7 linked regions of the Homo sapiens genome follow. The protein of the gene in region 4 purifies or fractionates together with the protein of the main gene of each other region. This does not show direct contact. Each region holds a gene or a part of one and is shown on either strand. Other genes may lie near its edges. The genes, in order: KIF2A, LETM1, ETF1, FGB, DCPH1, PYM1 and HMGCS1.

Region 1 (3,500 bases), on a different chromosome or scaffold from region 4:
TCTTATAAAGGATAATCTTAATTAACATATTTTAAAAGGTCTCTTACTACAACTTGAACATTTAAGGGTCTGATCAGTTTTGAAAATTCTACTAACAGTTTTATTTTTTTTTTGAGACAAAGTCTCGCTCTGTCACCCAGGCTGGGGTGTGGTGGCGCAATCTTGGCTCACTACAACCTTTGTCTCCAGGCTTCAGGCGATTCTCCTACCCCAGCCTCCCAAGTAGCTGGGATAACAGGCGCCTGCTACCACGACTGGCTGTTTTTTATTTTTAGTAGAGATGGGGTTTCACCATGCTGACCAGGCTGGTATCGAACTCCTGACCTCAGGGGATCCACCCGCCTCGGCCTCCCAAAGTGCTGGGATTACAGACGTGAGCCACTGCGCCTGGCCAACAGTTTTAAAGCATAGTGTAGATGTTCCCATAAATGCTAATTCAAGAAAATAAAAAATGACAGCAAAAAAACCTACTTTATTCTTCCAACAGATATTTCTGGAAACTATGACTAGTGTTTGAAAGTGACAGGCAGTAGGATAACTGTAAAAAGTTAATTTCTTAACATGGCACTCCAAAAGAAAAAAACACAGAATGCCTTATTTTAGTCTTTCCAACCTTTGGTGTTCTACTCAAGGAAAAGATGTAATAACCTGGCCTAACATTTTGAAAGCCATTCCACATTTTTCTGAGAAACTGTTTCTTAGCTCAATTCAGTGGTTCGTTGCCCTCCTCCTAGAAAATATGACTAATTAAGACCCTCTGGGCCGGGCGCGGTGGCTCACGCCTGTAATCCCAGCACTTTGGAAGGCTGAGGTGGGTAGATCACGAGGTCAGAAGTTCAAGACCAGCCTAGCCAACATGGTGAAACCCCATATCTACTAAAAATACAAAAATTAGCTGGGTGTGGTGGTGCGTGCCTGTAATCCCAGCTCCTGGAGAGGCTGAGGCAGGAGAATGGCTTGAACCCAGGAGGTGGAGGTTGCGGTGAGCCGAGATTGTGTCACTGCACTCCAGCCTGGGCGAAAGAGCAAGACACAGTCTCAAAAAAAAAAAAAACCTCTGGAGTTTACCTATGTAGCCCCAGAACTGACCTACTAACTCACATATCCTTTATCCCATCTAAAAAGAATAAAGAATGTGTGCAAGGAAAAAATCTGGGTATAATAAAATCACACTATACATTACAAGCATCTGAATTTTGAAAACCTCTTTTTATTAGGTAAAACAAGTACTACTATTTTGCAACTGAGTAAAGAAAATTAAAGTCAAAAGTAAAAGACCTTTCATGATAAAATACATTTTATTTACCTTGAGTGCTAAAAGGCTTTTATTAATTTCAGCACCTTCAAGCCTAGTTTGCCTGTCCGCACTGGAAGTATCAGCTCCTCTTTCATTTCCAGCCAAATCAATGAGAGAAAATTTGCCATGTAGTTTTCCTTTCCTTCTAAGAATAATCTGAAACACTGCATGGCTCCGAGATGAATGTGCATTTGCAGATGTTTGACCGGATGTTCTACAATGTGATTAAGGACATCTTGATACATTAAAAACTTCAATTTACATGTTCAAACCACATTATTTTCATTAAAAACAACAGCAGCAAAAACATCGATTTAGCTAGTTTTCATCTTTTAAATACAGATGAGACACTGAGTTATAACACTTAAATAGAACCAGATTCATACAATTTAATCCGGCATATTTCTAATATATTTGTAATGTAGTATCAATATAATAATTGTCACTCACATTTACATGTAACACAAGTTTTTATGAACAATGATTTTTACTTCCAAGATGTATTGATAGATAACATCCTCATTTTGTTATACTGTACCCAAAGTTTCTAAAACTGATGTTTCCTTTCTTAATCAAAATGAGATTTACCTGCAACTGTTGCCTATGTCAATGAGTTTCAGTACATCTTCAACACATTTGACCTCCCGTTCCTGTAATCCCACCACTTGAACCTGCTGTTTTCCATCTTCTAGAACTCTTAATTTTGTTTTCCTGTTTAGCAAGTCAAACACCTATGAAAAACCATATTCAAATTAGAAAACTAGCTTTAAAGTAAAAAACAGGCTAGGTGCAATGGCTCACGCCTGTAATCCCAGCATTTTGGGAGGCTGAGGCAGGAGGATGGCTTGAGCTCAGGAGTTCAAAACCAGCCTGGGCAACATAGTGAGACCTTGTCTCTGCTAAAAATAAAACAAATTAGCTGGGCATGGTGGTGCATGCCTATAGTCGCAGCTACTAGGAAAGCTGAGGCGGGAAGCTCACTTGAGCTCAGGAGATTGAAGCTACAGTTAGCTGTGATCATGCCACTGCACTCCAGCATGGGTGACACAGCGAGATCCTGTGGCAATTAAAATATCAGTTCTATAAAAATGAGTCACCCAGAGTTTAAGAATTATTTCAGAGATTAAAATAATAATTGGAATAAGAATTCTCAACACTGAAGTTGAAAAGTTTCAAAGGACTTTTTAAAAAAATCTCATAACATAAATTCTAATATAAAAGTTCTAAATACACATAAATTATGGTGGTAAACGCTGCACAACAATGTGAATATATTTAATGCCACTGAACTTAAAAATGGTTAAAATGGCAAATGTTATGTTATATATATATTTTAAAAAATTAAAATTAAAAAAGTTCCCACTTACCTTTCCACTATAAATTTCAAAGAAGGTTGCATATACTTGAAGTTCTAGCTTCTTATAGTTTGGCTTCTTTAGCATTAAAAAGACATCTCGAGCTGTCAAAAATTTCATATACAGAAAATTGAGATCCAACAAATATTTTTAAAAAGCAACTCAAATTTTCTATTTCTAGAGGAATCAGTTACTCTTTACCTAGGATAACAGTATCAATAATAAAAATGAGAAAGTGAATATTAATTTTACAAAAAATAGTATTAATAGAAGCTATTCTCTTTCATATGCCATAAAAGGGTGCTACTTTTATTTATATATATTAATATTTATATTTATAAATAGCATAAAATTATAGGTGGTCATAATGAGGTTATTCTTATACCATAGCTAGTAGCTTTTTACAGTTCAGAAATTCAACAATTGAGACTCATCTCCAACAATGTGCTAGAATGCACTGACAAATATAATCAAGATTTCTGCCCCCTCAAAATCAATCTTACAGTTCTTTTTTTTTTTTTTGAGATGGGGTCTTGGTCTGTTGCCCAGGCTGAAGTGTAGTGGCATGATCTTGGCTCACTGCAACCTCTGCTTCCTGGGTTCAAATGATCAAACAATTCTGCCTCAGCCTCCTGAGTAGCTGGGATTACAGGCGCCCGCCACCACGCCTGGCTAAGTTTTTTTTTGTATTTTTAGTAGAGATGGAGTTTCACCATGTTGGCCAGGCTGGTCTCGAACTCCTGACCTCAAGTGATCCACCCACCTTGGCCTCCCAAAGTGCAGGGATTACAGGCATGAACCACCACACCCAGCCTACAGTTCTTGTCTTCTTAAAAAAAAAAAAAATT
Region 2 (3,500 bases), about 150 Mb from region 4:
TGAGCCCAGGAGTTCAAGGCTGCAGGGAGCCGTGACTGTACCACTGCATTCCAGCCTGGGCAAAGTCAAATAAATCAAAATGAACAAAAGGCTGAGCACGGTGGCTCATGCCTGTAATCCCAGCACTTTGGGAGGCCAAGGCGGGCGGATCACCTGAGGTCGGCAGTTTGAGACCAGCCTGGCCAACATGGTGAATGAAACCCTGTCTCTACTAAAAAAAAAAAATTAGCTGGGCATGGTGGTGGGCACCTGTAATTCCAGCTACTCAGGAGGCTGAGGCAGGAGAATCAATTAAACCCAGGAGGTGGAGGTTGCAGTGAGCCGAGATCACGCCATTGCACTCTAGCCTGGGCGCAAGAGCGAAACTCCAAAAACCAACAACAAAAAAAGGTATCAGTATAAATCCCTGATTTACTACTCATTTATTTTCCCCTGTTCCTGTTACAGGTAGTCCAGGGGATCCTGCTCATCTCAGCTGTGCCAGCACCCTGGGGTTGAGGAACTGCCTGTGAGTAAATCAGTATCACTCTGCACCTGTCTGTTTGAAAACAGGGTTTGAAAATGGTGGAGAGTCACGAGTGACTCTTGATTTTTGAGGGAAACAGTGTATCCTACTTTCCTGTTCTTTGTTTCTTTTAAACCTTTATCTTTCCATTTTGAAAATGATTGTCACATGCCTCAGTGAATCTATAGACAGTATAGAAACATTCCTAACCTCAGTGCCCAGTTGCACTTGGAGAGCTGGGGACAGAAGGCTTCCTGTCCCCTAACAGGAATTAAATGGAATTTAATTGTTGGACTCCCAGTTGGAGTGGGCACTGGCAACTGTGCCCTCAAAGTGCCCAGTGTCAGTATTTTGATGTACAGCAAGTCTCATTTAATGTCTGTAGGTTCTTGGAAACTGCGACTTTTTTTTTTTCTTTTTTTTTTTTTTTTTTTTTGAGACAGAGCCTTGCTCTGTCACCCAGACTGGAGTGCAGTGGCACATGCTTGGCTCACTGCAACCTCCGCCTCCCAGGTTCAAGTGATTCTCCTGCTTCAACCTCCCGAGTAGCTGGGATTGCAGGCATGCCTCACTGCGCCTGGCTAATTTTTTTTTTTTTTTTTTTGAGACGGAGTCTCGCTCTGTCACCCAGGCTGGAGTGCAGTGGCGCAATATCAGCTCACTGCAAGATCCACCTCCCGGGTTCATGCCATCCTCCTGCCTCAGCCTCCCAAGTAGCTGGAACTACAGGCGCCCGCCACCACGCCCGGCTAATTTTTTGTATTTTTAGTAGAGATGGGGTTTCACCGTGTTAGCCAGGATGGTCTCAATCTCCTGACCTCGTGATCCGCCCGCCATGGCCTCCCAAAGTGCTGGGATTACAGGCATGAGCCACCGCGTCCGGCCGCACCTGGCTAATTTTTGTATTTTTATTAGAGACGGGGTTTCACCATGTTGGCCAGGCTGGTCTTGAACTCCTGACCTCCCGTGATCTGCCTGCCTTAGCCTCCCAAAGTGCTGGGATTATAGGTGTGAGCCACCATGCCTGGCAGAAACTGCAACTTTAAGGTCCACGAATAACGTTTTATTATAACTTTGGATGAGAAAAGAAATTGGTTTTCTTATGTCTTTTTCCTTAAGGTTGCATTTTCTTTTTTTTTTTTATTTTTATTTTTTTTGAGACAGAGTCTCGCGCTGTCACCAAGCTGGAATGCAGTGGCGTGATCTCTGCCCACTGCAATCTCCACCTCCCGGGTTCAAGCAGTTATCTGCCTCAGCCTCCCAAGTAGCTGGGATTACAGGCGCGCACACCACACCCAGCTAATTTTTTTTTTTTTTTTTTTTTTTTGAGACCGAGTTTTGTTCTTGTCACCTAGGCTAGAGTGCAGTGGTGCAATCTCGGCTCACTGCAACCTCTGCCTCCCGGGTTCAAGCGATTCTCCTGCCTCAGCCTCCCTAGTAGCTGGGATTAGAGACGCCGCCACCACACCCAGCTAATTTTTGCATTTTTAGTACAAAAGTACAAAATTTTCACCACATTAGCCAGGCTCATCTCAAACTCCTGACCTCAGATGATCCACCTACCTCGGCCTCCCAAAGTGCTGGGATTACAGGTGTGAGCCACTGCGCCTAGCTGCTCCCGTTATTTTCTTTAGTGAGTTCTCCAGCAGTTGTTCCTCCCTGGGGACCAGTTCCCCCAAACCTCGTCAGTCTGGACCTTCCTTCTAGATGAGCTGAACCATTTTACTTCTAAAACAGTCTTTTTGGGATTGTATCTGAAGTGTCATTAAACCAGTTGGGAAGGAATATTACTTTTTTTTTTTTTTTTGAGACAGGATCTCATTCTGTTCATTGCCCAGGCTAGAGTGCAGTGGTGCAATCATGGCTCACTGCAGCTTTGATCTCCCAGGCTCAAGCCATTCTCCCACCTTAGCCTCCTGAGTAGCTGGGACTACAGGCATTACCAACATGCCTTGCTAAATTTTTTTCTTTTTGGTATTTTTTGTAGAGACAGGTTCTCACTATGTTGTCCAGGCTGCTCTTGAACTCCTGGACTCAAGCAGTCCTCCTGCCTTTGGCCTCCCAAAGTGCTGGGATTACAGGTGTGAGCCACTGCACCCGGCCTGTTTTCTTTGTATAGGCCACATGCATTGCATTTTAGATAATTCCCAGATGTTTATTATTTTCATTAATTCTTTTCATTATCTTTTCTAAGTGATCATTGCTGTCCCGTAAGTTGCTAAGTTGTACAATTTTCTTGTATCTGGCCCCTTTCCTGTTATTTGTTCAGCTCTTGTAGCAGCCCAGGTTTAGTTTATGGCTGTGATCTTAGTACATAGTAATCATCTGCCTCTTCTTTCCCAGGGCTTCTGCTTCTGAGGTGGTTTCATTTCTTAGCTCAGTAGCCAGATCTGTGTCAGAACAGCTGTAGTCAGTCATGCGGTATCACAATAGCAGAAAATACAGGATCTAGTGTTTGTGACATATGATGTTAGCTTTTGGGTTTAAGTAATCTTTGTTCTGTCTGTTACTCTTTTTATTAGGAATGGATGTTGAATTTGTCAAGCAACTTTTTAGCATTTAAATTTCATACTAAAACATAAATGCTGGCCGGGCACGGTGGCTCACACCTGTAATCCCAACACTTTTGGAGGCTGAGTCGGGAAGATCACGAGGTCAAGAGTTCAAGACCAGCCTAGCCAACATGGTGAAACCCCATCTCTAATAAAAATACAAAAATCAGCTGGGCATGGTGGTATGTTCTTGTAATCCCAGCTACTCAGGAGGCTGAGGCAGGAGAATTGCTTGAACCGGGACCCGGGAGGTGGCAGTTGCAGTGAGCCAAGATGGCGCCACTGTACTCCAGCCTGGGCTAACAACAAAACATAAAAGCTGTACTTTATTCACGTAACTTTTTTTAAAGTTCCCAATTTTGAACATCTACTTAAAAATTTAAACAATGAGGACTGTACAGCTGTTTTGATGGACTTGTCTACTTATCAAGAATTATGGATGA
Region 3 (3,500 bases), on a different chromosome or scaffold from region 4:
TATATATATATATATATATATATTTTTTTTTTTTTTTAAAGGCAATTTCTTTGGTGGACCTTCTACCATAAGGCTACTTCCTCCAGATCTTGAAAGTGTATTATGGCTGAGCCCATGTTATAAAATGTGCTTTAAATGCTTTAGGCTGAATCAGCTGTCATACTGCTGAGAGCTTTGCTGCTATGTATCTCCAAGAATAAATCAGAAAAAGAAAATAAGGAACAGGTTTTAGTTTCTTTGAAATCAAACTCCATTCTACAGCCAATTCTGACAACCCAACTAAACAAGGAACCTCCACAGGATCCATAAGAAGCCCACCTAAAAATGGTTGATTTCAGAAGAGAAGGGGTTCAGAAAAGCACAGGGGAATGTTTCCTGATAAACATCTGTAAACCTGCTGTTTAACTCAGAGGCAAGTTTTTAACCCAAGGAATTTTAAAAAGATGTGTCTGTTCCAGTGCTCACACAGAGGACTCACCTACTCCTACCTAGGGTCTTACATAATAAAGCATCTACTTCTTACTTACCTGATCAAACATATCAGATTGACTTAGTTCAGTTTTAAAGTCAGCGGATCCAGCTAAAACTAGACCAGCCACATTCACTTTGTCCCCAGAAATAAACAGCTGCACAGCAGTCTCTGCTACTTTCCGAACATAGTTATGTCGCTTTTCCATTCTTAAACGGGCAAAACGCAAGGCTGACTGACCTCCTCTACCTTTGACACAAAAGTAGCAAGAGAAAAAGGCAATTATTAAGAACTACAAGATGTCTTCAAATTAAAAATAAAATAATCATGTCATCATCTAAGAAAAGGACAAAGAAAAATCACCATTCCCTTAACTAAACGTTCAGCATAAACTGCTACTTGTTTTCAGAGAGCGACTACTAAGTCTATGTCAAGAGAGGAGCTGTAAGTACCAATGAGGCACCAGTCATTACAGGAGGCTTCTCTCCCCATCATCTGGATTCACTCCCCTCACATCATACTGTTTTCTCTCTCTCTCTTTTTTGAGACAGAGTCTCACTCTGTCGCCCAGACTGGAGTGCAGTGGCGCAATCTTGGCTCAATGCAACCTCCGTCTCCCGGGTTCAAGCAATTCTCCTGCCTCAGCCTCACAAGTAGCTGGGATTACAGGCGCCCGTCACATTTTTGTATTTTTAGTAGAGACAGGGCCGGGCTGGTCTCGAACTTCTGACTTCGTGATCCACCCGGCTCGGCCTCCCAAAGTGCTGGGATTACAGGCGTGAGCCACCGCACCCGGCCCACCATACTGTTTTCTTATTGCTAGACACAAAGTAAGTGGGTTCATGTTCTCCTCCTGTATTACCGTGTTTCTTTGGGAGATCCACAGTGAATTTGTGCAGGACTTCTCTTGTGTTTCCTTGGAGTGTGCCAAAAAGTGCACCACTACCATCTATTACAATGAATCCAAACTTGCTATCATCTGAAAGTAGTGCTGTAAGAGCCTGAAAAGCAAACACAAGTACCACACGGTGAATCCCAAAGCTTTGCTAAGGTCAAAAAAACTCTGAAAGGATATATACAAGCCCTTTCACTCCACTCACCATGCTATTAGCACTGTGGGAAAACCTTCTACGGAATAATTTATAGACTTCAGTTATAAACATGTAACTCTTATGGACAAATTTGAACCCAATAAGGAAATAACGAATGATATCTATGTGAAGCTTTTCAACACATTTGACATGGGCATGTAAATATAAAACCAGAAAGATATCTGTATGCCCATGTTTATAGCAATATTACATACAGCAGTTAATACTACTCAATCTCAAAAAGGAAGAAAATTTTGAAACACACTACAACAGGGATGAAACTTGAATACATGCTAAGTGAAATAACCCTGTCAAAAAAGGACAAATACTGTATGACTCCACTTATATGAGGTTCCTGGAGTAATCAAAATCAGAGACAAAAAGTCAAATGGTGGTTGCCAGGGGCTGGAAAAAAGGGGGAACAAGGAATTATTGCTCAATGGATACAGTTTCAGTTTTATAATATAGAGTTCTAAGCTGGGTATGATGGCTCACACATGTAATCCCAGCACTATGGGAGGCTGTGGCAGGCAGATGGCTTGAGCTCAGGAGTTTGAGACTGGCCTGGGCAACATAGCGAAACACTGTCTCTACAAAAAAATACAAAAATTAGGTGGCTGTGGTGACACGTGCCTGTAGTCCCTACCAGCTACTTGGAAAGGCTTTAGTCTGGGAGGTGTAGGTTGCAGTGAGCCAAGATTGTGCCAGTGTACTCCAGCCTGGGTGATCCAGAGACCTTGTCTCAAAAAACAAAAAAACTTTAACTTGTTCCTTTTTTTTTTTTTTTTGAGACAGGGTCTCACTTTGCTGGCCAGGCTGGAGTGCAGTAGCCATCATAGCTCACTGCAGCCTCGAAGTCTTGGACTCAAATGATCCTTCTGCCTTAGCCTCCCAAAGTGCCGGGGTTACAGGCATGAGCCAGCATGTCTTTAAAGGTATTGCAGCTAATGATTCTGAGTTTTATGAGGAAAACCTTCCTTCTATGTTAACTTTATATCCCTTTATGCCTTCCCAAAGAGAAAATATTGAAACAGTCCTGGGACATACATAGATAAGAGTTCTCACAGTGGAATCGGAATACTACACACTTAGTTGATCTCTAATTGCCAGGGGACAATCTCTTTGGAAGTAAGAAATTGTTACCCATTCCATTTTATTTTTATAAACTGATCCTCCTCTTTGGCCTCCCAAAGTGCTGGGATTACATAGGTGTGAGCCACAACACCTGGCCTTACCATTCCATTTTAAGAAAATAGCCCCTTCAATAATTGACTAGAAAGCAGATGGATCAACTAAGAATCCATCTTTAACAAACCATGCTAGATAGTTGGCATTAAGACATGAATATTGTGGCCGGGCGTGGTGGCTCATGCCTGCAATGGCACTTTGAGAGGCCAAGGTGGGTGGATCACTCGAGGTCAGGAGTTTCAGACCAGCCTAGCCAACATGGTGAAATCTCATCTACTAAAAATACAAAAATTAGTTGGGCGTGGTGGTGCACACTTGTAATCCCAGCTACTCAGGAGGCTGAGGCAGGACAATCACTTGAATTCGGGAGGTGGAAGTTGCAAGGAGCCGAGATCGTGCCATTGCACTCCAGCCTGGGCAACAGAGCAAAACTCAATCTCAGAAAAAAGAAAAAGAAAAAGAAAAAAGACATGAATATGAATATTGCACGTTAATAATATAGCCTTATCAAAATGACCCGTTAGGTAGATTGAAGTTTTTAATAAATCTGCTTATCAGGGAATAGGCATATCCCTTATTAGAATATATAATTACCCTGATAAACAGGATATAACCCTCTCAGTTAAAGCTAAAATGTACAAAGTTAGCAAGATTAAACAGTATCTTAGAAAAGGAGTTAAGGTTTGGAAAAAAGCCAACAAGGCTAACTCAGTAAGTGAGCAAAAGCCAGACAACATGGGTACCTGGCACTG
Region 4 (3,500 bases):
TAGGTGAATATTGGCTTGGAAATGATAAAATTAGCCAGCTTACCAGGATGGGACCCACAGAACTTTTGATAGAAATGGAGGACTGGAAAGGAGACAAAGTAAAGGCTCACTATGGAGGATTCACTGTACAGAATGAAGCCAACAAATACCAGATCTCAGTGAACAAATACAGAGGAACAGCCGGTAATGCCCTCATGGATGGAGCATCTCAGCTGATGGGAGAAAACAGGACCATGACCATTCACAACGGCATGTTCTTCAGCACGTATGACAGAGACAATGACGGCTGGTATGTGTGGCACTCTTTGCTCCTGCTTTAAAAATCACACTAATATCATTACTCAGAATCATTAACAATATTTTTAATAGCTACCACTTCCTGGGCACTTACTGTCAGCCACTGTCCTAAGCTCTTTATGCATCACTCGAAAGCATTTCAACTATAAGGTAGACATTCTTATTCTCATTTTACAGATGAGATTTAGAGAGATTACGTGATTTGTCCAATGTCACACAACTACCCAGAGATAAAACTAGAATTTGAGCACAGTTACTTTCTGAATAATGAGCATTTAGATAAATACCTATATCTCTATATTCTAAAGTGTGTGTGAAAACTTTCATTTTCATTTCCAGGGTTCTCTGATACTAAGGGTTGTAAAAGCTATTATTCCAGTATAAAGTAACAAACACAGTCCCTAGATGGATTGGCCACAAAGGCCCAGTTATCTCTCTTTCTTGCTATAGGGCACAGGAGGTCTTTGGTGTATTAGTGTGACTCTATGTATAGCACCCAAAGGAAAGACTACTGTGCACACGAGTGTAGCAGTCTTTTATGGGTAATCTGCAAAACGTAACTTGACCACCGTAGTTCTGTTTCTAATAACGCCAAACACATTTTCTTTCAGGTTAACATCAGATCCCAGAAAACAGTGTTCTAAAGAAGACGGTGGTGGATGGTGGTATAATAGATGTCATGCAGCCAATCCAAACGGCAGATACTACTGGGGTGGACAGTACACCTGGGACATGGCAAAGCATGGCACAGATGATGGTGTAGTATGGATGAATTGGAAGGGGTCATGGTACTCAATGAGGAAGATGAGTATGAAGATCAGGCCCTTCTTCCCACAGCAATAGTCCCCAATACGTAGATTTTTGCTCTTCTGTATGTGACAACATTTTTGTACATTATGTTATTGGAATTTTCTTTCATACATTATATTCCTCTAAAACTCTCAAGCAGACGTGAGTGTGACTTTTTGAAAAAAGTATAGGATAAATTACATTAAAATAGCACATGATTTTCTTTTGTTTTCTTCATTTCTCTTGCTCACCAAGAAGTAACAAAAGTATAGTTTTGACAGAGTTGGTGTTCATAATTTCAGTTCTAGTTGATTGCGAGAATTTTCAAATAAGGAAGAGGGGTCTTTTATCCTTGTCGTAGGAAAACCATGACGGAAAGGAAAAACTGATGTTTAAAAGTCCACTTTTAAAACTATATTTATTTATGTAGGATCTGTCAAAGAAAACTTCCAAAAAGATTTATTAATTAAACCAGACTCTGTTGCAATAAGTTAATGTTTTCTTGTTTTGTAATCCACACATTCAATGAGTTAGGCTTTGCACTTGTAAGGAAGGAGAAGCGTTCACAACCTCAAATAGCTAATAAACCGGTCTTGAATATTTGAAGATTTAAAATCTGACTCTAGGACGGGCACGGTGGCTCACGACTATAATCCCAACACTTTGGGAGGCTGAGGCGGGCGGTCACAAGGTCAGGAGTTCAAGACCAGCCTGACCAATATGGTGAAACCCCATCTCTACTAAAAATACAAAAATTAGCCAGGCGTGGTGGCAGGTGCCTGTAGTCCCAGCTACCTGTGAGGTGGAGATTGCATTGAGCCAAGATCTCAACACTGCACTCCAGCCTGGGCAACAGCGTGAGACTCCACCTCAAAAAAAAAAAAAAAAGAATCTGACTATATACCATGGAAAAGCCACCACTCTGCCACTTAAATAAACATCAGGATCAGAGATTCCAAGAGGACAATCTGCATCAAGTCTTCACCAAGTGTTTTTTAAGCGAAATAATGAAATAGGGAGCAGAATATGCCTGTTGCCCATAGAAACGAGGTCTATTCTTGTCCTCAATTAGGCTTTTTTTTCTTCATAGTTACACCAGAACTAAAGTAAAAGTGGTTTTTCTGTTCTTTCTACTTCTCCCCATGAAATGGGCATATCATCTCAACACTTCACTCCAAGTCGCCACGGGCAACCTTATGACCCTAGGTCCTCCACCCCTAATGTATCATCATTGCCACCCATTTTTATGGTACTTATTGTTCTTAAGCTTATCCTCTTAATCTTTTCATGTAAGCAAAGCTCATTAATTTCTGTCTTGGAAATGCTACTACTCTCTTTAATTACTCACCAAATCCAACTTTAACTTTTGACCTGGTTTCTCTGCCACAAGTTCTGTCCCACTGGAGCCCATACTCACCTACCGCTTTGCCATCACATTTAACAGAAAACTCTTATCAACTTACTTCCTGCTTAACATTAGCTCCTTCCTATCTATATCCAAATTTCTTAAATTCAAATTTTTTAGCTGGAGTAAAAATGGTCCCAGTACCATTTCCTGTTCCCTTCACTATAACCTACATTTTTGTCACATTAAGTTTTTCCCCATTCCAGGACAGGTCAGGCCCTTTAAAAATTTCAACAGCTTTATTGAGATATAATTGATATAATTTAAAAAATCCTGCACATGTGTCATGCTGGAGCCCTATTGATTCCAACAGGGATGGCGCCTTGTCCAAGAAGAGACCCAGAGCCAGTGAATGGGACATAGGGTTTATTTAGGACTTAAATACAGATGTGGTCCAGTGGCAGTGGGCTGGACAGGACCGCTACTATTTGTAAAGAGTATGTAGTTTATATAACATTTCTACTTAGCACTCTCCACTTAGCAACCTCCATTTAACCCAAAATAAAAGGCCTTGGTTCCTTGCACATCCTGAGTTCCAACGGACAGGCAGGGAGTTCAAGTGTCCTTCACAGATAAGAAGTGAATCTCTCTGGGTTGGCCATTCCCGGATTCCTTAGCTTAGACTCTGAACACATATTCTTCTTAGACCATACAGTCATTCTCAGGGTATGCTTGAGTTAATGCTGTCGGATGCATCTGTCATACAAAGTGTTTAACATATACGATTTCATGATTTTGGAAATATGCATACACCCATGATATCACTGGCACAGTCAAGATATTAAATATATCCATCACCTCCAAAAGTTTCCTTGTGTTCATTTATTTTAGTTTTTCATGGTAAGAACATTTAATATGAAATATTATCAACAAATTTTTAAGTGCACAATACTGTATTATTAATTTTAGGCATTATGTTGTACAGTAGATCTCTAGAACATATTCATCTACTAAAAATGAAATTTTATCTCCATTTCCCCCTACCTCCCATCCCCTGGCAACTACCATT
Region 5 (3,500 bases), on a different chromosome or scaffold from region 4:
TGAGTGAAAGAAGCCAGACACAAAACTATACACTGTATCATTTCATTTCAGTAAAGTTAAAAAACAGGCAAAACTAACACAGGTCAGAACAATGGTTATCCTTGAGGAGTAATGAAGGCAGTGACTGGAAAGGGACTCAAAGTGGACTTTTGGGGTCTGTAAGGTTCCGTCTCTTGATCTGGGCACTGGGTACACAAGTATGTTCTTGAACACATAAGACATGCACATTTTTCTATATGTATATTACACTTTATTAAAAAGTTTTTCTAAAAATCTAATATTTTCTCTGTACTTTCATCTTTCAATATCTGAAGTGTATTTACCTAATATGTTTAAATTTCACATATGGCTAAAACTTTGAATCTTAATTTAGACTGGCAGACTATTGCATGTTTCAGTGTAAAATGGTAAATCAATATAAACATGTCTTTTATAAAAGCTGGTCAGTCTGGAGTTGCCATTGACCTAGGATAGGGATCCCCCATAGAAGAACCTAAAAATTAGACATTTAAGAATTACTTCAGTGCTGGCTCCATTGTAAGATGGCTCTTTATCTGCCACAGAAACCGCTTTGGGAAGAGTTCTACATCCGTGATTGTGCAACATTCTAGTTTCTTGAACTTAAAGATGCATGTTCCCTCTATCCCATTTAACAATCTGTTCGCTGAACCAGTGGATATCATCACTCCCTGAGCTTCCGAAAGAAAAACTGATACCCAGGCCCCACCCCAGATAAATTAAGCAATTTGTATTTATTCCAACACAATAATCTAAAACTATGTGGTGTTTTTTTTGAGACGGAGTTTCGCTCTTGTCGCCCAGGCTGGAGTACAACGGCACAATCTCGGCTCACTGCAACCTCCACCTCCTGGGTTCAAGTGATTCTCCTGCCTCAGCCTCCTGAGTAGCTGGGATTACAGGTGCCCATTACCATGCCTGACTAATTTTTGTATTTTTAGTAGAGACAGGGTTTCACCATGTTGGCCAGGCTGATCTCACACTCCTGACCTCGGGAGATCCACCTGCCTCAGGCTCCCAAAGTGCTGAGATCACAGGCGTAAGCCACTGTGCCTGGCCTAAAAATACGCATTTTTGAAGCCACCTTCCTTTTCCCCAACTGGGTCATAAATGTGCAGCCAGGTTTGTGAAAATCTGCTCTAGGTATTTTTAGTCTCTGAACCTGATCAACCTCTAAAATCAAACTCAGAAACAGCATTCCTCTTGCCTTAAACACACAAACTCCACCAACCCCACTCAAGATGCCACCCAGTCTTTCAACACTTTGGCAGCTTTGGCTCCTACCACAGATATTTTCCAAAATTAGGAAACCATCACCCCGAATTTCAGACTACTCTCAGTCCTTGACAGGCATCTAAATCTACTATTTGGGAAGAATGGCTGAATAAGGACACTAATCTGATTCACACAGACCAGGCTCAAATCCTGGTTCCACCACCTACTAGCCATGTCACCTTGGGCATGTTAGAAATCTCTCTGAGCCCAATCACCTAAACTGTTAAAATGGAAACCATAACAACGCCTACATTTCACTGGGTTGCACAGTCACTAGAACATTGCTAGTTACTGACAGCTCCTTACATCTTCTGCTGTTCTGCTGGGGTGCCTTCTCCATGCCAAGCAGTGCACCGGAGTTTTTTTTGTTGTTTTTTTGTTTTTTTTTTGAGACAGAGTCTTGCTCTTTCACCCAGGCTGGAGTGCAGTGGTGTGATTTCGGCTCACTGCAACCTCCGCCTCCTGGGTTCAAGTGATTCTCCTGCCTCAGCCTCCTGAGTAGCTGGGACTACAGGTGCGCACCACCGCGCCCAGCTAATTTTTGTATTTTTAGTAGAGACGGGGTTTCAGCATGTTGGCCAGGATGGTCTCGACCTCTTGACCTTTTGATCTGCCTGCCTCGGCCTCCCAAAGTGCTGGGATTACAGGTGTGAGCCACCGCACCCGGCCTGCACCAGAGTTTTAATAGTGTATTTTGCTTTTAGATCAGAAGTTCTAAAACCTACCTATCAGAAAAAACAACAAATTGTGATATGAAAAAAAAATATATAGGCTGGGCGTGGTGGCTCATGCCTGTAATCCCAGCACTTTGGGAGGACGAGGAGGGCAGATCACCTGAGGTCAGGAGTTCGAGGTCAGGAGTTCAAGGCCAGCCTGGCCAACATAACGAAACCCCATCTCTACAAAAAATACAAAAACAAAAAAAGTTAGCCAGGCATGGTGGGAGGTGCCTGTAATCCCAGCTACTCGGGAGGCTGAGGCAAGAGAACTGCTTGAACCCGGAAGGCAGAGGTTGTAGTAAGCCAAGATCGCGCCACTGTACTCCAGCCTGGGCGACAGAGCGAGACTCCATCTTAAACAAACAAACAACAACAAGAACAACAACAACAACAAAATATATACGTGTGTGTGTAAGATTAAGACAAAAAAGCTAATGAACAGATTTTAAAGTTCCATATGTTTCCCAAAATAATTTTATTTTACAATTAGTGCTGACTTGATAGGTCACTTTAAATTGTCCTATGCTATGTTTAGGAACAGATACCAAAGGATTCCTCTTAACAAACCTGTATTTTTGGAACCTGTGCTTATTAAGGATAATCCAATCATCCCCATTAACTTTTCTTTGGCACTATAAATAACAGTTTTTTGTTTTTTGGTTTTTTTAAACAGTCTCGCTCTGTCGCCCAGGCTGGAGTGCGGTGGTGTAATCTTGGCTACTGGAACCTCCGCCTCCCAGGTTCAAGTGATTCTCATGCCTCAGCCTCCGGGGTAGCTGGGACAACAGGCATGTGCCACCACACCTGGGTAATTATATATTTTTTGTAGAGACGGGGTTTCGCCACGCTCACCAGGCTGGTCTCAAATTCCTGACCTCGAGTGATCCACCTGCCTTAGCCTCCCAAAGTGTTGGGATTCCAGGCATGAGCCACCACGCCTGGTCTAAAAACTAGTTCTCTATCAGATGTTTTCCTAGGAAAAATTAAATAATATAAACAAGCCTAGAAAAAGTTACTTTGAAACATGTGTACTTTTAAAATCTTTTTCTAAACTAGCCTTTTTAAAAAAAGATGAAAGATTAAGACTATAATACAATAGTATGATTCACTGTTCTCATGACTCCTTAAACCAAGTAAGTTGTAACGTTTATTATCTATTTCAATAAACAAAACATATGCTTACTTTGTCCCATCCTTATTTATATAAATGTAACTATTTCAAATTTACATTTTTTACTCAATAAGCAAAACTTCTTTTATTCTAGAAGTCTTTGTTGGAATCTTTAATTAATTCACGCTTTATTTATCTATTTTATTGAGACAGAGTTTCACTCCGGTGCTCAGGCTGCAGTGCAGTGGTGCAATTTTGGCACACTGCAACCTCTGCCTCCCAGGTTCAAGCAATTCCCATTCCTCAGCCTCCCAGGTACCTGGGATTACAGGCCCGTGCCACCATGCCTCGCTAATTTTTTTATTTTTAGTAGAGAC
Region 6 (4,147 bases), on a different chromosome or scaffold from region 4:
TAGAAGCGGAAGCCAAGAAAACATCTCTAATCATACCCATCATTAGAGACAACAGAAGTGCCTGCTTAGTATAGAAAATCAAAATGAATAAAGAAAGCAAGAGGATATTATCAAAGTGGCTGGTCACAGAGGTCTAGCTGGGCAGCACCAAAGGCCATAAGGTACTGACAGATTCAATGAAATGGGAAGGTCAAGAACCAGAGAACTTGAGGACAAAAAGCTGATCCTGTGGGTTTAAGATAGTGAAATAGGTGACTGGTAAGGAGGCTAAAGTGATGGGGAGCAGCTGAAGAAAAAGCGGTGTCCTAGATGAGATCCAGGTTGTAGTGATTCTGATGTGCAACTGGTTTGAAAATACAAAGGAAAGTCGACCGTCTCATGCTGAGGAACTATGAAATCAGAATATTCCAATGGTGCTGGAGACACTGAAAATGATAGCAAGAAAAAAAGGAGAGAAAAAAATATGATGCAATAGGTCTGGGTCCCTGTGGGCAGTAAATGATGACACTAAAGTTTTACAGAAACTGCTATAATTGCATGGCAATACCTTCCATGAGGATTAGAGTGACAGTGGTAGATCAATGATCTGGACATAGTAAAGGAAAACAAAAAAGCAGTTTATTCCTTTTTCTCTTCCACATAGTCACGGAAAACAGAAAACAGCTTTTAGTGACAAGGTAAGGTAAGATGTGATACCTGGATTTTCACGGAGTCAGGGTAAAGAAAATGATTAAGAGTAAAGAGAAGTATACTGGATAAGTAGTATTTTCAAAACACACATTAAAAGTTGGTAATTCATGAAGGAGCTACTGGGTAGAGAACAGAAGGAAAGAGGTAGTACCACTTTAAATTGTGAGGTTGGGGAGAAGTAGCAGCAACCTGGGTTGTCATCAGATACCATAAAATAGGTGGGCTGAGGTGTAAGGAACATGGAAAGCAGCAGAGCAAGAAGCAAAATGGCACATTTTAAAACACCGTGTGTACCAAGGCACAGGCACACTGTTGCTTCTACAGACTACAGACTACACATATGAGGGCTACAAAAACAGAAACACTTTGCACTTGCACAGTATTTTATAAATTGCTTTTACATATATTATTTGATCATCATTGAGTAGCTATTACTACTATGCATATTTTCCTAAAGATGAGGCCATTAGGAAGGGACAAAACCATGATAAAAGCTGTGATTCTCCGTTTCCAACACATACACCTTACATACACAGCAGACACTTCAGCATCTCGGCCAGCCAGGCTGCAAATTCTTCTCTAGCCAGAAGGAATAGTGGGTTTTATTCACTTGTCAAAGGGCTTCGGAGAAAAGCCACTAGATACTTTCCTGTTTGCCTTTTCCCACCTTAGACCCCTCAATTTCTATCACCATCACGGGAGAAGGTAGCGAAGGGTGGCTCCATCAGGGAGAAAACTCAAGCTGAAAGTTGTATTAGGGTCCTCTTCCCTTCACACCTCTAAACCTCAGTGACCCAACAAATGAAGATACGGGAGAGGAAAAGGTACTATGTAGAAACGAGGAGGTCTTCAGCAAATAAAGCTTCGAGAAAAATAATGAAAACGGGACTGGGGTAGGGCAGAAACCAAGTATAGCTGAGATGGGGGAGGGGAAAAGAAGGAGGGCAGGAACTGGAGGGAAATGAGAGTGTAGAAGCCCCCAAGCCTGAAGAACCTAAAAGAGATATGAGTGGTCCAACTGCTGGAGAAAAGCTAAGGGCCCGTGAGGGTCCTGAAGCAGGGACCAGCACTGAAGGACCCCAGGGTTTGGGTGACCGGAAGCAGAGACCCCAAACACGAGACCAGAAGGGGGCGCAGGAGACACCCCGTAGGAGAGAATGAATGGGGAAGGCGGTCCGGGGGGCGGGGCAAAGGAGGGGCCCCGGGATGGGCGGGGCACAGACCCCTTTCCAAGTCCGAACCCCTGCCCCGAGAGCCCGGAGAGAAGCGGCTCCGCGCCTCCCGCACTCACCGCCGGTCTCGTCAGTAACATAGGGAGTCGCCATCTTGAAAACGCAAACCACTTCCGGCGTGAGCGGGCTGGGGTCCCGCCCCCCTCCCCACCGGAAGTGGAGTCCCGATCGTAGCAAGCCACCATCTTAGTCTTAAAGGGAGAGTGCACCATTTCATGGGCGGAGGTGGAGGAGGAGGAAGAGTGGAGAAGCTGAAATAGTTAATAAAATAAAGCCGTGGGCTTTTTACTGCCACCGATACCATTACTGAGCGCTTGCTGCCTGTAAAACAGTCCTCAGGGAGCCAAGAGAAGTTCCGAGGCACAGTCCCTCTCATCCCCAGGAACTCCTCGTACGTCCAGGACCTGCGAGGGAAAAGGGCGCAAGGCCCACCTGCACCCAAAAAGGGGGCCTTATAAATGAAGAAAGGAAGAATATCCAGGCTCTGGCCTGCACCCAGATCTCAGAGCGGCTTGGTGACGTGGAGCAGACAAACTCCAGGAACGCACTGGGGCGCACAAGTGTTTCTAGGGACGGTTGGAGACCCTATCTAACCCTAAGAAGGTGGGGAGGTCGAATTCGTGTGCCGATTGCTGTCGGCCAACCCACTCAACCACCAGAGACCCGCGGGAGGGGCGTGCAAGGCGGAGGGCGCCGCGGGTCGGTCACCTGTCTCCGTAGCCGCAGGGCTGCCGGCAGCTTCCATGGCCGAAGAGGCAGCGGACCAGGTTGGGCGGGCGGCCCTGGCCTGGCTCTGCCCCGCTGGGCGGCGCCGGGGATTCGGCGGCGAAGTGATGAGGGCCCTAGTTGCTTCTCGCCCAGACCTCCTAACCCTGAGTGCCTCCTCGGGCTGGGCCCTAGGGTCAGAGGGCAGGGTGAAAGCTTCTGGGCGGACCTACTTAGTATTCTAATTAAACTCGTCCAACCGCTGAGGATCTAAAGCGGGGCAACTCGCCAATAATCCGGTCCCGTAGTGTCACTCCATTTGTAGTCCTGCCCTGCGCCGTACCTCCCTATTCTGCAGACGAACCCATATGGTCTCCCTCCGCCGCCCATTTCAGCAACTGTTGTTCCTTCAGGGCTAAGTCCTGTTAAACTTGTTTCCCCTACAGCCTGAGAGGAGCCCGGCTGCAGGTTCCTCTCCTCAGGTGTCAACTCTGCCCTCCTCCACCCTCATATAGCTTTTTCCTTATCAACCCTTTTACCTTCCTGCTTATATCCCCACTTTGGCTTAGTTTAATGTCCAGCAGTACCCCTGGAACCAGGGAGGAGGCAGGAGGTAAGTATTGGTGACTACCTCCAACACTAGGCAGCATGTCCCATTTAAAAAACAAAACAAAACCCAGGCGCGGTTGCTCACGCCTGTAATCCCAGCACTTTGGGAGGCCAAGGCGGGTGGATCACGAGGTCCGGAGTTCAAGACCAACCTGGCCAAGATGGCGAAACCCCGTCTCTACTAAAAATACAAAAAAATTAGCCGGGCGTGGTGGCGGGTGCCTGTAATCTCAGCTACTCGGGAGGCTGAGGCAGAGAATTTCTTGAATCTGGGAGGCGGAGGTTGCAGTGAGCCAAGATCGCTCCACTGCACTCCAGCTTGGACGACAGAGTGGGACCCCGTCTCAAAAAAAAAAAAAAAAAAAAAAAAAAAAAACTAAAAAACTGAGCAATGGCTGACTAGGACCTTTATAAGACAAATTAGGCCTCAGAAGTTTTCTGGGGGCCGCAGCTTGCCTTCCTTCCCATCCTCCATGTCTGTGACTTCCACTAGAGGCCAATTCAGAATGTCTGGGGGTGGGGCTCATTTAAAAAGTATTTCCAGGCCGGGTGCGGTGTCTCATGCCTGTAATCCCAGCACTTTGGGAGGCCCAGGTGGGCAGATCACTTGAGGTCAGGAGTTCGAGACCAGCCATGGCCAACATGGTGAAATCCCATCTCTACTAAAAATACAAAAATTAGCCGGGTGTGGTGGCGAGTGCCTGTAATCCCAGCTACTCGGGAGGCTGAGGAATGAACCTGGGAGGTGGAGGTTGCAGTGAGCCAAGATCGTGCCACTGCACTCCAGCTTGTATTATAGAGCAAGACTCAGTCTCAAAATAAATAAATAAAAAGTATTTGCATACGATACACTGTTATTGCAAGTGTTGTGACACTGTGGTCTTAAACCCTTGCTCTCTTTTCACCGATTG
Region 7 (3,500 bases), on a different chromosome or scaffold from region 4:
CTTTATTTCAAAGTTATTCACCTCACCGTTAATAAGGTGTATGATTAATGCTCTGTGCCAGTATTTGCAGGCCTGCCCATTGCCGGCAATGGACTTTGAGAAAACCCATTTCCTGGCACCCAAAAGTTAAATTACTCTTTTCAAAACATACCGATCTCCCCAACACTTGCAAAAGTATTACATGCACCATTTTGCCACCATTCTTTAAATCAGAACTTACATTATTAATCTACATCAGTGAATGTTAAATGAAGTCATTTTAACAAATTATGACTGTACAAATCAAAATACTACTAGTTAATATTAGACAAGAGTATCTTACAAACACTACTATTACATATTACCTTGCAATCTGAAACATTATATTTCATATTTGTGTATATTTATTTTAGATAACTGAAACTTCACAGAATTTAACAGCAAATAAAGTTTAAAAAATTTAGTTCTGTACATTAGTTCCAACTATCCCTATTTTACAATCTATAAGGCTCATGTCATAGTTCAGCACCAAAAAGATCTACACAAAACTGTTTAACCAATCTTCTTATCTATCCTGTGTGATAGTTTTGTTTGTTGTTGTTTTTTAAGGTAAAAGTCCTACTTCAGACCTTGAAGTGGAATACTTCTAGTCAGACTAGGTAAAAACTTGGGTCATACCTTATTTTCATTGAACAGATACCAAAAAAAAAAAAAAAAGGAAAAGGAAAAGAGCTGTGTTACACCATGAATTTAGGTTGTCAGCCTCTATGTTGAATTTATAACACTGAAGCATCAGAAATAGCCTAATAATGCCCTGCCCCTATTCTTCCCTTCCATTTTAAATTTTTAAAAAAGTAACCAGAAAAATGTTTCATTTATTCTTTAAAATAAGGTGCAAAGAAGGACTGCAACAACAAACTCCCTCATCCACACCTCCAATAACATCTCACTGTTGTTCAGCATAATCTACCATGAACTGATTCAGGAGCACACCTAGAGCTATATTCACAGCTCCTGAATGTACCATGTTTTCTATACCAGAAGCCTCTTCAATGGCAGTGTTTCTCTGTTCAGAGGTCATTACAATAACTTTTGTCACTGCTGGCCTGGACTTAACATTCCAGATTCCAGAGCCAGTGTTTTATTGTCCCAGCTCTTTTCTTCCTCTTTAGGATTTATCAATTTTAGAAAAAGGGCATGTTTGTTTTGCTATTTTCAAAGGGTTTGTGCGTATCACATTTTACCACATTTTACCCCAATTTTACCACACTGGGGAATGTTGTCACATTCCCCAAGCTAGAAATGTTTTCCAAAAACCACAGGTACTTTCTGTAATCTTGTTGTTCAAAGTACAAAATTCTTACATGTTAAAAAATTTTTTAATTGGAGATTAGTACCTCTGCTTTCTTCTGACAGAAGTACACAATTCATTATACCATGTTTAAAAACCAAACATCATGCATACAAATGGCCAAAGAGGTATGAAGTTTTACAGAGCCCTTAACATCATTCGAGTACATTTGGCATTGGCCAGACCACAACAGGAAGCATGTCAGCAAATAGAGCAAAGAGACTTTCCCAAGTACACGATAGTCATCCAGGCTCCATGTCAGTCACATAAAAATTTACATAACATGTAATCCTTTAAAATTATCCCCAGATATCCCATTCCTCCAACTGTTCCCATACCCCCACCCCATGCCCACCCCACCCTGAAGTCTTGCACCTCACAGAGTATCTTAATGTTCCCCATTACTAATGACAGCTGCTTCAGGTTCTGCTGCTGTGGCAGGGAGTCTTGGTACTTTCTTGGCAGGGCTTGGAATATGCTAAAATGAAAGGAAAAAAGTTGATGGCTCTTATGATTCTTTCCCCCACAAGAATCATGGCACCAATTAAAGTTTCTGTAAAGAAACTTAATAAAGGACAACTCTGGAGAAGTTTATGCTAAATATATATTTTATATAACTTTTCATGAAGGGAACTCAATATCCATTTTTCACCTTATGGTGAATTTAGTATACAATTATCCATATGGGGGGGAGAGGAAGCCTGCCACAGAGACCCACCACGTAACAGTATTTTACTTGTTACGTCTTGTATTTGCAACTCAAACAGTGGCGGTTTGACTTGCTACCTAATTTGTATAATAGCAAAAAGCAAGACTATCCATTTACCAAACTTGTAGTAAGCAGATAAATAAGTAGTTTCAAGGTTATAAAGTCCTTAGTTTATAACCTGGCTTTAATACTTACTACCTATAATCCTGGGCAAGTAATGTAACTTCTTGGAGGCTCATCTCTAAAGGGAGGACAGTATCATTTATAAACTTCAAGGAGGTTGTTGTAAGGATTAAATAAGAAAACGTAAGTAAAGTGCCTAGCAGGTAACAGGAATTCAAATCATAGCTATGATTGTTACTTCTTGACAATTTGAGGACAGATTTTGACCATGATCTGGGATGAGATGTGAAAGGATCCTTGTCCCTCTACTCCATCTCTCACAAAGACACACACCACAAATGAACCTTCTCTCTATATCAGTCTTCCTTTAAATCCTGGTATCATTAATAAAACCTAGTATTTACTGTATATTCTTTTTTTTTTTTTTTTTTTTTTTTGAGATGGAATCTTGCTCTGTCGCCAGGCTGGAGTGCAGTGGTGTGATCTCAGCTTACTGCAACCTCTGACTCCCTGGTTCAAGCCATTCTCCTGACTCAGCCTCCTGAGTAGCTGGAATTACAGGCACGTGCCACCAAGCCCAACTAATTTTTGTATTTTTAGTAGAGACAGGGTTTCACCATGTTGGACAGGATGGTCTTGATCTCCTGACCTCGTGATCTGCCTGCCTCAGTCTCCCAAAGTGCTGGGATTACAGGCGTGAGCCACCGCACCCGGCCTTTACTGTATATTCTTAAAATATTAATAATTCAAATGCAAAGCACTTTATACAATTGGAAATAGTACAGCTAGAATCTACTCCCAGAGCCCTTACTCTTCTTTACTGACATTTATTTATGTTGCTAAATCCCAGTTAGGTCTCCTAAACCCTAAGATATGGAGATGGGAACTCTTTTATTTACCTCAGTTGCTATGTTTGAATGCACAAGTCCTACTCCTTCATCCAAAGTGTCATCATTTGGAGTGGGACGCCGAGCGTAAGTTCTTCTGTGCTTTTCATCCACCCTAACTAAGTACCACGTTCCTTCAAAGAGTGAATCTATTGAACCCTGGGGAATATAGTTGACTAAAGGAAAGGGAGAGAATATCTACAATTAGTTATGATATACAATTCATCTGGTAATAAAGCTAAAGATAAGTTTCATATATCCCAATAATTTTCACTGACATCAGATTAGTACTGAGTAAAGTCTTGATATCCTTATCGTATATGTAGCATCCTTAATGATATCAGCCCTCCAAATGGGTTAACTTAAAGAACATTTAATATTTTTACCCAAATGATGGGTGTCCTCTCTGAGCTTCATGTTTTCAGCGAAGACATCTGGTGCCACACCAGTT

Evidence for each region.
Region 1: the proteins of FGB (region 4) and KIF2A purify together in Homo sapiens (affinity purification with mass spectrometry; 2 studies listed by BioGRID and IntAct, with this or other methods). This does not show direct contact.
Region 2: the proteins of FGB (region 4) and LETM1 purify together in Homo sapiens (affinity purification with mass spectrometry; 2 studies listed by BioGRID and IntAct, with this or other methods). This does not show direct contact.
Region 3: the proteins of FGB (region 4) and ETF1 purify together in Homo sapiens (affinity purification with mass spectrometry; 2 studies listed by BioGRID and IntAct, with this or other methods). This does not show direct contact.
Region 5: the proteins of FGB (region 4) and DCPH1 purify together in Homo sapiens (affinity purification with mass spectrometry; 2 studies listed by BioGRID and IntAct, with this or other methods). This does not show direct contact.
Region 6: the proteins of FGB (region 4) and PYM1 purify together in Homo sapiens (affinity purification with mass spectrometry; 2 studies listed by BioGRID and IntAct, with this or other methods). This does not show direct contact.
Region 7: the proteins of FGB (region 4) and HMGCS1 purify together in Homo sapiens (affinity purification with mass spectrometry; 2 studies listed by BioGRID and IntAct, with this or other methods). This does not show direct contact.

Annotation. Positions count from the first base shown.
Region 1 is NC_000005.10:62,361,706-62,365,205, reverse strand, and holds part of KIF2A (kinesin-like protein KIF2A), read right to left. Parts: intron 2,757-3,500; coding exon 2,665-2,756; intron 2,029-2,664; coding exon 1,886-2,028; intron 1,512-1,885; coding exon 1,307-1,511; intron 1-1,306. UniProt on the Homo sapiens protein: Plus end-directed microtubule-dependent motor required for normal brain development. May regulate microtubule dynamics during axonal growth. Required for normal progression through mitosis. Required for normal congress of chromosomes at the metaphase plate.
Region 2 is NC_000004.12:1,846,157-1,849,656, reverse strand, and holds part of LETM1 (mitochondrial proton/calcium exchanger protein precursor), read left to right. Parts: intron 1-447; coding exon 448-508; intron 509-3,500. UniProt on the Homo sapiens protein: Plays an important role in maintenance of mitochondrial morphology and in mediating either calcium or potassium/proton antiport. Mediates proton-dependent calcium efflux from mitochondrion.
Region 3 is NC_000005.10:138,512,237-138,515,736, forward strand, and holds part of ETF1 (eukaryotic peptide chain release factor subunit 1), read right to left. Parts: intron 1,471-3,500; coding exon 1,332-1,470; intron 719-1,331; coding exon 528-718; intron 1-527. UniProt on the Homo sapiens protein: Component of the eRF1-eRF3-GTP ternary complex, a ternary complex that mediates translation termination in response to the termination codons. The eRF1-eRF3-GTP complex binds to a stop codon in the ribosomal A-site.
Region 4 is NC_000004.12:154,569,511-154,573,010, forward strand, and holds the end of FGB (fibrinogen beta chain isoform 1 preproprotein), read left to right. Parts: intron 1-3; coding exon 4-289; intron 290-908; coding exon 909-1,140; 3' UTR 1,141-3,297; downstream 3,298-3,500. UniProt on the Homo sapiens protein: Cleaved by the protease thrombin to yield monomers which, together with fibrinogen alpha (FGA) and fibrinogen gamma (FGG), polymerize to form an insoluble fibrin matrix. Fibrin has a major function in hemostasis as one of the primary components of blood clots.
Region 5 is NC_000006.12:151,458,966-151,462,465, reverse strand, and holds part of DCPH1 (damage-control phosphatase ARMT1), read right to left. Parts: intron 1-3,500. UniProt on the Homo sapiens protein: Metal-dependent phosphatase that shows phosphatase activity against several substrates, including fructose-1-phosphate and fructose-6-phosphate.
Region 6 is NC_000012.12:55,925,095-55,929,241, forward strand, and holds the start of PYM1 (partner of Y14 and mago), read right to left. Parts: upstream 2,801-4,147; 5' UTR 2,668-2,800; coding exon 2,631-2,667; intron 2,526-2,630; exon of another isoform or gene 2,222-2,525; intron 2,032-2,221; exon of another isoform or gene 2,016-2,031; coding exon of another isoform or gene 1,982-2,015; intron 1-1,981. UniProt on the Homo sapiens protein: Key regulator of the exon junction complex (EJC), a multiprotein complex that associates immediately upstream of the exon-exon junction on mRNAs and serves as a positional landmark for the intron exon structure of genes and directs post-transcriptional processes in the cytoplasm such as mRNA export, nonsense-mediated mRNA decay (NMD) or translation.
Region 7 is NC_000005.10:43,289,413-43,292,912, forward strand, and holds part of HMGCS1 (hydroxymethylglutaryl-CoA synthase, cytoplasmic), read right to left. Parts: coding exon 3,436-3,500; intron 3,226-3,435; coding exon 3,062-3,225; intron 1,809-3,061; coding exon 1,719-1,808; 3' UTR 1-1,718. UniProt on the Homo sapiens protein: Catalyzes the condensation of acetyl-CoA with acetoacetyl-CoA to form HMG-CoA, which is converted by HMG-CoA reductase (HMGCR) into mevalonate, a precursor for cholesterol synthesis.